4 separate regions of the Homo sapiens genome follow, and regions 1, 3 and 4 are each reported to be linked to region 2. The links are microRNA targets in miRTarBase. Many come from high-throughput screens and were not tested one by one. Region 2 holds a microRNA gene; each other region holds the end of a gene's coding sequence. Distances are between the middles of the regions.
Evidence for each region. The annotated mature microRNA hsa-miR-205-3p reads GAUUUCAGUGGAGUGAAGUUC and lies in region 2 at 1,378-1,398, opposite strand. An mRNA with a match to its seed (bases 2 to 7 or 8) in the 3' UTR can be bound and repressed. Matches are read on the target gene's strand: a 7mer-m8 pairs with bases 2 to 8, a 7mer-A1 pairs with bases 2 to 7 and ends in A, and an 8mer does both.

Region 1 (3,145 bases), not on the chromosome of region 2:
GTGGTTCTTCCAGTACTTGGATACAATATTCAGTACCCGAAGAACAAAGTAGGGCAGTGGTACCATGACATACTTAGCAGAGATGGACTACAGACATGTAGGTTTAAAGTACCTACTCTGAAACTGAATATACCAGGTTGCTATAGACAGATTTTGAAACATCCCTGTAATCTCTCATACCAACTAATGGAAGATCATGACATTGATGTCAAAACGAAAGGTTCCCACATTGATGAAACAGCTTTGTCTCTTTTGATCTCTTTTGATCTTGATGCTTCATGCTATGCTACCGTTTGTCTGAAGGAAATAATGAAGCATGACGTTTAAAACTGATACCCTTGGTATAACCATATATATGTCACTCTTTGAAGGAAAGGGGGCTAAAATGTCTTAAGCACCTTCCATGTGTTAGGAACTTCATAATTGTTATCTCTTTTAATTTTCACAGCATCCTGAGAAGTTAGGATTTGATACTGTAATTTTATAGAGGATATGTAAGTGTCAGGGTCCAAATTTAAGGTCCATGTGACCCCAAAGCCTGTGTTTTTTTTCTATTATATGTTTCAGTGACCTTTATTCTGTGTCATAAAGTTACAATCTTTTAAAACCATTAGGAATATATATAATACTGCAAGATAACATTTAAGAAAAAAAGTTGTGAATATTCATATCCTCCAGCTCCTTGCTTAGAACACTAGTAAAATTAGGTCGCAGTGAAGCAAATGTTGGAGAGAAAGATAGATGAAGCATTTTGCTAATTATTATTGTCCCCCTTTCCTGTTTTTGAAATTATTGATCAGAACAATATACAAGGGAAATGCCATACCTCTGTTTGTGATAGATACCCCAGAGTAGTTATTACCTCTTTGTGAGATAAGTAATCTTTGATGAAGATTGAAATACAATTTCTCATCCAATTTTTATATCTTGGCATACGCTGACCCTCTTGACCATTTGTAATTTTTTCATATTATCTAAAACAGGTGTTAGAGTCAGACAGATTCATTCTTAGATTCTAGCTCTGACACTTACTAGTGATTTTGAGTATGTTGTTGATTTTTTTGTGTGTGGTTACTGATAGAATCAAGACAATTACAACTTCATAAATGACAAATAATAGGATTATCTCCACATTTTCTGTTGCTGGAGGAACAAAACATTGTGCCCATTTGAAAATTTTAATTTTTGTTGGTTTAACTATCCCACATTATAAATCATCCTTCACCATTTTATATCAGTTAAATATGGGTGTGTTGGGGAGGAATGACTGGCATGTAGACATGTATTGATTTAGGAAGATCTGAGCATTTCTTTCATTGTTGGTAAGATATAATGATGAAATTTAAAAAGCAGTATGGAGCATTATATATCAGTAATGTGATATATATACTTAAGCCAGTTTAACCATTTTGGGAAATGTTAGCATTAGGAAATAAAATCCAAAAGAAGGAAGAGAAGCTATATGCAATGCAAAATTTGCTTATTGCAATATTTTCATATACAGACACTAAAAACAGTTTTCAAAGTCCAGCATTACGTAACTAAAGTAAGTAAAATGATGTGTATCAACTTGATGGTAAAATATGTAGTTATTTAAAAAAGCAATGAACAATTTAGTTTCATGAGAAAATGTTGCCCCCTAAAAGTAGAACACATATGTTACAACTGCAATAATACTCTGAATTCATCTTTCACAAATAAGAGACATGTTAGCATAGTGATTAAAAGCACAGATATTGGAGACAAACTAACCCAGTTTGAACCCTGGCACTGCCACGTATAGCACTGCAGCCTTGGGAAAGTTATTTAAACTCATGGGCTTCAGTTTCAACATCTGTAAAATGGGCATGTTAACATTGCCTACCTCATAGGATTACTGTGAGAATTTTCTAAGTTAATATATGTAAAGCAACTTTAAAAAGTGCCTGGCACTTAGTTATTGTTAAGTAAGTGTCTGCAGATGCAAGTTTGGAAGAGAAAAGCAAATAAATGAAAATCCCTTCCTGTTAAGATGATGGGGTATTTGGATTTTTTTTAATACTAAAAAGTTTTTTTTGTTATATGTTTTGGCAATAAATAATTCTCAATACACAAAATTGGATATTGTAGTACCATTGATTTTCTTTGGATTACTGCCATCATTTTAATGTTATATTGAGAATGAAGTGATCCTCTATTAGGTAGTAAAAAAAATTTAGAAAAAATGTTTTATTTTATATGATAAATCGTATCCTATAAATGTAATCATAAAATGAGTTATATACATTATTAAATCCTAGTTTTTAAAAGTTTTGAATAGCAATCAGAAAATACGAAAGCATGAAAATATATCATTGATTTTACTTTTTTTGCCTGCAGATGGCACTATAATTTTAGACATTTATTGATTTATTTAGTAAATACTTCAGCAGTGTATAAAGGAACACTAAGTTTATTTCATCACCATAAAATGTATTGAGATATCATTCATGTGGAATATTATTTTATATGCCAATAAGATGCCATGTTAAACTTTTTTTGTTTAAGGACTTTTATTATTAATAGTATGCTTTGGACCAACTGATGACTAGTCACTTAGGTTTTTGCAGTTTTGCTGGGGCATTTCAGACCTTCATAAGCATGATCTTTGGATTAGTTTTTTTTTTTTCTTCACCTCATTATTAGGAGTTAATTTATTTTTAAAGTGTCATCTTAAACTGCAAGGATGTCCTTTAAACATCACATGCCAATTAAACATGCCGAAGGAGAAGCTGTGTCATCAAAATGCCCACTTAACCTACCCAAACATCTCAAACCTACCCTTTGCTGACCTTCTATAGCCCCATTTCCAAAGTTTTGCTTTATTTTTATTTTTTCTTCCAACTTTTATTTTAGGTTTAGGGGTACATGTGCAGGTTTGTTACATGGGTAAATTGCATTTTGTGGGAGTTCTGCATACAAATTATTTAATCACCCAGATAATGAGCATAGTACCTGATAGGTTGTTTTTCTATCCTCATCTTTCTCCCACCCTCCACCCTCAAGTAGGCCATGGTGCCTATTGTTCCCTTCTTAGAGTCCAAGTGTACTCAAAGTTCAGCTCCCACTTATGAGTAAGAACATTTGGTATTTGGTTTTCTGTTCCTGCATTAATTTGCTTACAATA
Region 2 (3,145 bases):
GGGGGAAGGTGAAGAGACCTATCCCCCTCAGAGGTCACTGGCTGGGGGGCAGGGCTTGGCCATTCAAGTGATCGGTATCCATCTGCAAAGCTGGAATCTCCTTTAGAGTGAGCTCCTAAGAAAAACACCACTCAGCCAAGGAGAGCTATTGTATTTTGCTGCCTGGGGCACATTCTGGAGGTGAAAACCGGTTTTTCTGAAGACTTGTCAGGGCCAGGCTTTGTTCAGAATCTGCCAATTTAGCCAGACTGGCTCCTTAAAGGAGACCCCTTTACCTGAGGCAGGGGCCAATTATAAAAAAGGCTTGTGGATGGCATTCCCTTCATAACTGGGTTGGACTTCCTTCAGACTTAGGAACTTTCTCTTGTTCCACACCTTCTCCTTCCTTAAAAAGGAGAAACATGGAGTAACACACACACACACACACACACACACACACACACACACGCACACCCAATCACACTGAATTGTAAAGAGAATGAAATCAGTGCTAAATCTATCAAAGCGTATCATAGACCCTGACAGCTGAGAGGTATTATTTGCTTTTTTCCTCCCAGATTTCTACCGAGCCTGGTGTTTTAAGCTATGTCTTGGGGAGAAGAGACCCATAGAAAGGCAATTACAATTGGTGAATGATTAATGTTGGATCTGACATTTTTATGTGTCAAATATGTTTAACTGCATTAACCTTTGCAGAATCTACACCCATACTATGAGATATATCTTGTATAGCATCGGAAATATCTGCAATCTGCCTTCACTTAAATTTTATTTACATTTACTTTATTACAATATAAATAGGTTTAAAAAATCTTTAATAGAGTGTTTTTACCCCATTCTGCAAGTTCTGCTTGCTCTGTGGGGAGTCTAAGGGCAGCAGGGTTCCTTGCTGATTGCAAATAGTGTCCCAGCCACCTGCCTGGGGACCCTAAAGAGAGAGGAAGCCAGTGTCAATTTTTCAAGTTCATGTCTCAGTTTTAGCCTAAAGGGGAGGTGGCTTAGAAGGCCGGGAGTTGGCATCCGATGGTATAAAACATAGAGGCAGAGAGGCTTTTCAGTAGACAAGCAACTTTTAGTTTTTACAAGTTACAGAAAACGCAAATTTTCATAGCATCAATTTTAGAAAAGAAAGATTAAGGTTCCCATCTGCGGTGCTTTTTCCAATCTGCCCATCACCCGTCCCTCTGAAGAAGCACGCACACTCCAGATGTCTCCTTCATTGATCACATTTCTCTCTGGCTGTCTCTATTCCTAAGTCAGAGTTACTCTTGCTGCTGCTGCTGCTGCTGCTGCTGCTGCTGCTGCTGCTACGGTGGTGGCGGCGGCGGTGGTGGCGGTGGCTGCCGAGGCCTCATGGTTGTCAGCTCCATGCCTCCTGAACTTCACTCCACTGAAATCTGGTTGGGTATGAGACAGACTCCGGTGGAATGAAGGACAAGAGAAGCACATGGATTGTCTGAGGATCTTTTTCTCAGAGGGTGGGGATGCATGTCAACCTCAGCCTGTAGACACTGCATTACCTGGCCAAAGGCCTTTGGCATCCCGGAATCACACATTTGGGAGATGTCAAGGACCTGAATACTCCTACCCCTCCCATAGGATCACATCCTCCAAGGAGGCTGCAGAGAGCTAGTTCAACACGTCCTTGCACCTGCTGCACAGACAGACAGTGCTGAGTTGGGGAGGTGGGTCTGTGGGGCCAGGGACTCTTGACTGTTTCTCGTTTTCAAAACAGCCACCCAGATAAGTCCATGTGGAACCTCCTCTGTGTTTACCTAGTTGGGATGTCGGTCACCCTCTCCCTTTGTCTAGGTCCCACTGTGTGTGCCATAACTGAGCTCGGTGTGGTTGGTCCTTTCTAGAGGAAACAAAGAAAAAGCAGGTGTTCTGCAATTGCTTTAGAAAAATCCAGCTACTCTGAGCTTGCTTACCAAGGCCTTGGAATGCAGGGGCATGGGCATTCCTCTCCACAAGGCACTGTCCAAAGAGCACGAAGAGCACTTTGCAACCCCGTTTGCCAATGTGAAATCCAGAAGAGATAGGTGAGGAGCTCAGGAAAAACCACAACTCCTGGCTGGAGCCAGGCCCATTCATGGGGGTGGGTGGACAGAGGAGGGTAAGACTCCTTGTTCTCACTCCTAAAGACTTATCTAGGAAGGACAGCCTCCAATGGCCCCACATCCTCCCCAAGATGTGCCTGGAAAATGATTCAACTATTTCTTTGTTGGTCATGAGGATGGAGGATTTAGGGAGGAAGAAAGCAAGCTAACCTGGCTTTCATAGACTGAGTCAAATAGGAAGGACGCAAAGTATCTAAGAGTTTTCTGCTCTGTCTTAAAAGAAATGCCCATCAACCCTTTGCGTGCTGTTGCTGCTCTGGCCTCTTCCTTGTTGTGTTCAGACATGCCCATGGCTCAGTGCAAGCCCCATAAAAGGCTGTTCTCAGCACCAACATGCAGGCTGGATGGGTTGGGGCAGATGCACCTTGTTGTTTGAAATACTTTCTTCCTGGGGCTTGTTCTGACCCGAAGCAGGGAGGCAGTTTCTCGTATGTGGCTCCTCCCCACGCATCTAGCCTTCTGGGCATTGGGTCTCTCTGAAAAAGGCCCTTAAGCAAGGGCTTGAGGTTTCTAGCTAGTGCTGAGAAGGAGTCACACTCTCCTTGGTCTGAATGTAAAGACTCTTTGCCAGGGTGAACACGGGGCTTGTTGGCAGGCAGAGATCTGGGTAGTGAGGGGAAGAAGACTGGTTCATCTTCTCCTGCTCTGCCTTCTTGATAAACACTCACAGTTCTCAATAATGAGAGGAAAATGCACCCTGCTTGTGAATTATCTGGACCAGATCCTCCTCCTGCACCGCCTTTGACCCATTCCCAGTCAAAGGGAAGAAAGAGGCCAGTCTGTTGGCTGTAATAAATAAATGATGGCCTGGGATGGTAGGAGGAAATGATGCCAGGAAGGCAAGATTCTTTGCCTTCTCTTTAGATTTCTGCTTAACTCCAAGAGCAAAAGGGGCAGTCAATTCTTCTCCCTCCAGACCCTCGGCACCCCGCTCTTCCCCTCCCAACATGTACAGTCCACTAGATTATTAAAGTCCTCACTCTGGAGTGTGCAGAGAGCCTCACCCTCATGTGGGGTCCGTACCC
Region 3 (3,000 bases), 190 Mb from region 2:
CAGGGCCCACTGACATTAACTGAAAAAAGCATGTGGTGGAGAGGCAGGCAGGCAGGCAGGCAGGCCGGACCCAGGAACCAGCCCAGGAGGCAGGCCCATCACACTCTGGCTTTCCCTCTCCTACCCACCTGCCCCAAGTCCTCACTCCCAAGAGGAGAGCAGATATTAAAAGCCAGCCAGAAGGGACTCTCAGGCCAGGATCTCTTTCTGGCTCCTGCAGTTTTCAAACTCCCTAGAGTACCCTAGTCCTCAAAGACAAATGACCTATGTATACAAGGAGGAAAGTAAAAATAATACCGCCGGACACCGATAACCACAGTAACCTTAGTTACTCCCATGCTAACACTGCTGCCTTACAGTCTTAAGTCTAAAGATATATCTGTCACCCTCCCACCACCTTGGGGAACAACCCAGGGCCGGCTTCCACGCTGCCCACGAAACTCCCATACCACATTGTCCAATGCCTCCCTCGGCCCTGGACGGAGGAGACCCACGAGGGTGGATGTTTTCCTGCCCTCGAGGAAACGGAAAATCTTTTTAGCAGCTGAGGTCCAAGCCCAACTGGCTCTGATAACCTTTGGTTAAAATAAAAATTCAACAACAATAACAACAAGAATCAGGTATGTTTGAACCCTGTAACCTTTAGAACAAGGGTGAGTGAGGAGAGAGAAGGGCCGTCTCTCTTCCAAAACCATTGTCCCTCCAAGTACCTGTCAAAGGGAACTGTTTGGCTAACAAGAGATGCTGACTATGGAAGTGTCACAGCCAGACTGCCACAGGGGACCCGTGGGAGGTGCCCCCAGCAAAAGAAAACAAAGGAAAAAACTCATGACGAAGGCCACCAAATCGTGATAAATTACATCACACATAGTCACTAACACATTCTCACGCTCTCTCTCTCTCTCTACATATATCTTTTATGTACAGTATTTTTAAGACTGTAACACAGGTGGGGGAAACAGAAAAGAGAGAAGAGCCTTAAAGGCCACGGACCCCTGGGGACCACAATCCCAGTCAAACCCAGAGCCCCCTCCTTCTGCCTCCAGGCAAGGCAGAGGGACCCAAGTTCTAGTCCTTGGGCACATTTTGCTACCTTGACCACTAGAGGGAGCTCCTGGGACAATAAAAAATTAAAATTGGCAACAGACCCACTGCAGTAGGCTTAAAAAATAATAATAAAGCAAAGCCTGCTCAGCTGGCTCCAAGCTGAGATTTGGAAGGGGGCCACACAGTGCCCTTCAACGCAGTCCCACTCAAGCCATTCAAGTCTTGGGGGATGCTGGCTCAGATCAATACCCCGACTGGCCAGTCGAGGGAACTGCTGAGAGCGGCTTGCGTGTGTCGAGGAGCAGAAAGAGGATGGCCCTCACTCCAGCTCCTGCACTGCCAGCAGCCCACCCTGCTTCTCTCCTGCCAGCAGCCAAAAGCAGGCAACTGCCGGACAGTCCTAACCCAAGGCGGGTAGAAGGGAGCAGAGACCAGGCCTGGCCCCTTCAGACTTTCTCACAGAGAAATTACAGATCTCTAAGCCTCTATTGTTGGCTGGCGAGGGAGGGAAGAACATCAAGTTATCAGGGAAATCAAGGATCCCTCCGCCCCCGCCCTGAACCCAGAGGTCCGGAAGGAAGCAAGCGGTCAGGGAGGCCAGTGCCTTGCGGGAACCCCAGCCTCATGACCAACCTCGGCCAAACCCACACTACCCAGTCAGTGCTGCCACACAGATCACCCTAACCCCGGCCTCTCTCCCAGCTCCAGGGGGAAGCCAGGAGCCCAGGAGAGGTCCTGCCTTCCACAATGATATAAGGCAAGCTGCTTTTGTTGTTTGTTTTGTTTTTTGCATAGTAGTTTAAACACAGTGAGGCTCTGCCTTCCCCTCACAGTGCCTTGTCCCTTCAACTTTGCCACTCGATCCCCCCAAAAAATTAAAATGTGTCCTCCTTCCCTTCCTTCCACCTTTCTCTCCTTCAGGGAGTGAGAAAATTGGGGTGGTCCCTACCCAGGCCTAGAAAGCTCACAGAGGCAAGCGGCTCCTTCCTGGGGGTTGGCAGAGCACCCCAAGCTCCAGGCCGAGTCTGGGCTGGCTCAGGAGGAAGGGAGGGCATAGCCCATGGCCAATCAGAGGAGCAGGTGGGACGGACGGCAGAAACCACATTACACCACGGCCGGTTGGCCCGGCCCTCAGCTTAGAGTTCTGTATAAAAACACCTGCTAGGAATAATTCTTTGGAGCTCAAAGTGGCTCAGCTTAAGGGAGAAGGCACAGTTAACACTGCAAAGTCCGCACAGAAGTCTGCATTTGTAATGTGGAGAACAATAGAAATTGACAGCACCATTCCTTGGGTGGGTGGGGGATGGAGACGGGGCACCCGTTGGTGGTGTGGAAGGAAGGAAGGAAGCAGCAGTCCCTCAGGGCCTCCAGAGAAGGGAGGGCAGAGAAAGTCTGTGTGGTGTGGCTTCGAACCCCACTCCGAGGGGCCTTCCTGGCCCCATGAGGAGAGGTGGCAGGGCCCCATCACCAAGACCACCAGGCTCGCAGGGCCTCAGTCATCAGCTGACCATGGGCTCCACATCCGCCTCGCGCTCGAACTCATCCTGGATCTCATCTGTACTTCCTGAGTCGCTGCTGGCCACGGAGCTGGGGGACGGTGAATTCCTGAGAAGCACAAGAGAGTGGGGAAATTCAGAGAGCAGCCCTGGGCCTCTGAAGGGTCAAGGAGTGGGAAGGCTGAGCTGCCACTTCTATAAGATCTACTCTCAGAGGGGCCTGGTCCTGAGCTCCTGCCTCACTCAGCTATCCTTAAGATCCTTTAAGCTCACGAGGTAACCCCCTGCACCAGCCCCTACTTGGTCTGGCTGTGTTGGCTTCTCTAGGAAGAAAGCCCCTTGGGAGCTGGACCGTGGATCAAGTTTGGCTGTTACTCTCCAAGCACCTAACCCATGTCTGGGCATATAGTAGGTGCTAAGTAAAACCTGAATGACTCAGAGCTCAAAAGGAGGCCAT
Region 4 (3,136 bases), not on the chromosome of region 2:
AGCAGATCCCAGGAGTTGGAAAAGTTAAAGCTCCCCTTCTCCTCCAGAAGTTTCCAAGCATCCAGCAACTGAGTAATGCTTCCATTGGGGAACTGGAGCAGGTGGTCGGACAAGCAGTGGCACAGCAGATCCATGCCTTCTTCACGCAGCCCAGGTGAGGGCTGGCCTCAGGGCCACGGCATCTTCTCCTGAGACCACAAACACCAGGATCTTGTTTTCAGCTTTAAAAACCAAGAGAATGGGCCGGGTGCACTGGCTCACGCCTCTAATCTCAGCACTTTGGGAGGCCGAAGACAGCGGATCATCTGAGGTCAGGAGTTCAAGACCAGCCTGGCCAACATGGAGAAACCCCTAAAAATAGGAACAATTAGCCAGGCATGGTGACAGGTGCCTGTAATCCCAGCTACTTGGGAGGCCGAGGCATGAGAATCACTTGAACCCGGGAGGCGGAGGTTGCAGTGAGCTGAGATCGTGCCACTGCACTCCAGCCTGGGCACCAGAGCGAGACTCCGTCTCAAAGAAAACAACAAAAAAAAAAAAAAAAGAAAAAGGATTTTCTCCAGCAGCAACCAGTGAAAGATGAGGCGAGGCTTGAATGGAGCCCGTGGGTCGTCCTGCCTTAGCGTCTGAGTTCAGCTTGTGAAGTTAGTGGGCCGCAGAGGGCACTGCCTTCATTCTGCTAAGACGAAAAGGGCTGGTGGGATCTTCGCAAGAGAGTCAGGGACTCACACTCAGCAAAAAGCATTAGGGCCGATTTTAATGTGCGACCTTGACCTGCATCTGTCATGGAAAGTGCCTTCTAAAAAGCTTCAGTGGTGGATGTGACCATCTGAAGGAAACAAATGTACAAGGAAGCACTGTGTATCCTAAGCCCTGGGTTCCCAGAGTTTCACCTGCTGTTCATCAGGTCTGGCCTTCATATACCCGTACTGCGAGGGCTGTTTCCAATGTAAATAAATAACTGCGCAACAGTTCCTTCCTCCTTTCCTTTGTTCCTCCCTCCCCCCGGCCTTTTTTTTTGGCAGATGTACAGTTTGTTTATAATCACTGCATATGTCTTCTGCACACAGAAAGTATGAAGTCTGAAGTTCCCACTTAAAGTTGAAAACTCAACGGCCGGGCATAGTGGCTCACACCTGTAATCCCAGCACTTTGGGAGGCCAAGGGGGGTGAATCACAAGGTCAGGAGATCCAGACCATCCTGGCCGACATGGTGAAGCCCTGTCTCTACTAAAAATACAAAAATTAGCTGGGTGTGGTGGCACACACCTGTAATCCCAACTACTCAGGAGACTGAGGCACGAGAATCGCTTGAACCCAGGAGGTGGAGGTTGCAATGGGCCGAGATTGCACCACTGCACTCCAGCCTGGATGACAGAGTGAGACTCCATCTCAAAAAAAAAAAAAAAAAATTTAAAGTTGAAAACTCAACATGCATGAGGCAGAACAGGCTGTGTTTGTATATGAAAGGCCCAACAATGGAAGGATACAAGAAAATGATGGCAGCAGCTGCATCTAGTGAGGGAAGCAGGGGCTGGGGATCAAAAGGTACAAATTGCCCATTCAAAAAATAGACACAGGCCAGGCACAGTGGCTCACACCTGTAGTCCCAGCACTTTGGGAGGCTGAGGTGGGAGGATTGCTTGAGTCCAGGATTTCGAGATCAGCCTGGGCAACATGGCAAGACCCCATCTCTACAAAAAAATCAAAAAAATTAGCCAGGCATGGTGGCTCATGCCTGTAGTCCCAGCTACTCAGGAGGGTGAGGTGGGAGGATTGCTTGAGCCCGGAAGGTTGAGGCTGCCATGAGCCACAATTGCGCCACTGTCCTCCTGCCTGGGTGACAAAGCGAGACCCTGTCTTGAAAAAAAGACAAAAACAAAAAATAAGCACAAAGATACCATCTGTCTTAGAAAATACTAAGATAACTTGACAGCTTTTTAAGTTCTGCTTTGTGAAATGTTAGTAACTAAAAAAATCAGAACATTAGAAACTGTGTGCATTGGGGAGAAACAATTTGAAAGAGGAGGGAATGAAAATGAAATAAAAGTAAAAAGAAATATTAACTCGGGTAAATGAATATGTTTATTTAAATATGTATACAAGCATGGCCCTAGGAGCAGCAGATACACTTTCCCAAAGGTGGTTGCTTCCTTTAAGATATTGCACAATAGAAAATAAACTCTTGTCAATCCTTAAAATTAGTCTTCAATGCTATGTATTTTAGCTATGTAACTTGTACTGTGTCAACAGTGAACCTTATTAGATTCACGGTGTCATCGAACTTATAGCAAGATAAAAATCAATCAGTAGGAATGTCATTTTAAAAAGTAAAATAGTGGGACGGTTGTGGTGGCTCATGCCTGTAATCCCAGCACTTTGGGAGGCTGAGGTGGGTGGATCATTTGAGGTCAGGATTTCGAAACCCGCCTGGCCAACATGGTGAAACCTCACCTCAACTAAAAATACAAAAATCAGCCAGGCATGCTGGAGGGCACCTTGTAGTCCCAGCTATTTGGGAGGCTGAGGTAGGAGAATCGCTTGATCCCAGGGGGCGGAGGTTGCACTGAGCTGAGATCACACCACTGCACTCCAGCCTGGGCAACACAGCAAGACGCTATCTCAAACAAAAAAAGGAAGTCAAATAGAGCTTTAAACCTGAATCATTTACATCTTTACTTTATAAAATGTAAAACTACTTTTTTACCCAAGACTTAAAATATAGAATTATGTAACTTCTACTTTAAACAAAATGAAAAATGTTTTGAGTATCAAACAGTATATTATCTACCTTGTAGACAGCATCTTCATCTAACACTGCCACTGTGTTAGTAATTCTTAAATGACATCAAACTAGAAGAAAAGCTGCTCCTACATTGTTTTTATTTAATAAGACAAATTTGGCACTAGACTTTTTCTAGAAATAGCATTCATAGTCTATCGATATAATAGTAACATCTTGTTTTAGGTTAATGAATTCCTATTAGGAAGCAGCACTTTGGGACAGTTTTTAGTGACACTAATTTAATTCTATCATTACAGTCCTCTGACCTGCCTTAATTCCAGGATCATCTGAATTCTAGGTTAAGGAATGATTATTAGCCAAACCTGGAAACAACTACAAATTGTACTGATA

Region 1: the mRNA of PUS7L is a reported target of hsa-miR-205-3p. Seed matches in the 3' UTR shown: 7mer-A1 at 896-902.
Region 3: miRTarBase lists IFFO2 as a target of hsa-miR-205-3p. The part of its 3' UTR that is shown has no 7-base or 8-base seed match.
Region 4: miRTarBase lists FAAP24 as a target of hsa-miR-205-3p. The part of its 3' UTR that is shown has no 7-base or 8-base seed match.

The regions. Positions count from the first base shown.
Region 1 is chr12:43,727,558-43,730,702 of GRCh38, reverse strand. PUS7L (pseudouridine synthase 7 like) reads left to right here. Exons shown (of 9, transcript NM_031292.5): 9 at 1-3,145. The coding sequence ends at 327. Among named protein-coding and RNA genes, the nearest start is that of PUS7L, 30 kb to the left of the region's middle.
Region 2 is chr1:209,430,456-209,433,600 of GRCh38, reverse strand. It overlaps MIR205 (microRNA 205), which reads right to left and starts at 1,468; the gene lies at 1,359-1,468. It overlaps MIR205HG (MIR205 host gene), which reads right to left. Exons shown (of 4, transcript NR_145437.1): 3 at 3,125-3,145; 4 at 1,052-1,397. RefSeq lists enhancers at 1-29, 30-627.
Region 3 is chr1:18,906,015-18,909,014 of GRCh38, forward strand. IFFO2 (intermediate filament family orphan 2) reads right to left here. Exons shown (of 9, transcript NM_001136265.2): 9 at 1-2,652. The coding sequence ends at 2,547. Among named protein-coding and RNA genes, the nearest start is that of ALDH4A1, 5.0 kb to the left of the region's middle.
Region 4 is chr19:32,976,525-32,979,660 of GRCh38, forward strand. FAAP24 (FA core complex associated protein 24) reads left to right here. Exons shown (of 5, transcript NM_152266.5): 5 at 1-1,705. The coding sequence ends at 158. RHPN2 (rhophilin Rho GTPase binding protein 2) reads right to left here. Exons shown (of 15, transcript NM_033103.5): 15 at 2,068-3,136. Among named protein-coding and RNA genes, the nearest start is that of FAAP24, 5.9 kb to the left of the region's middle.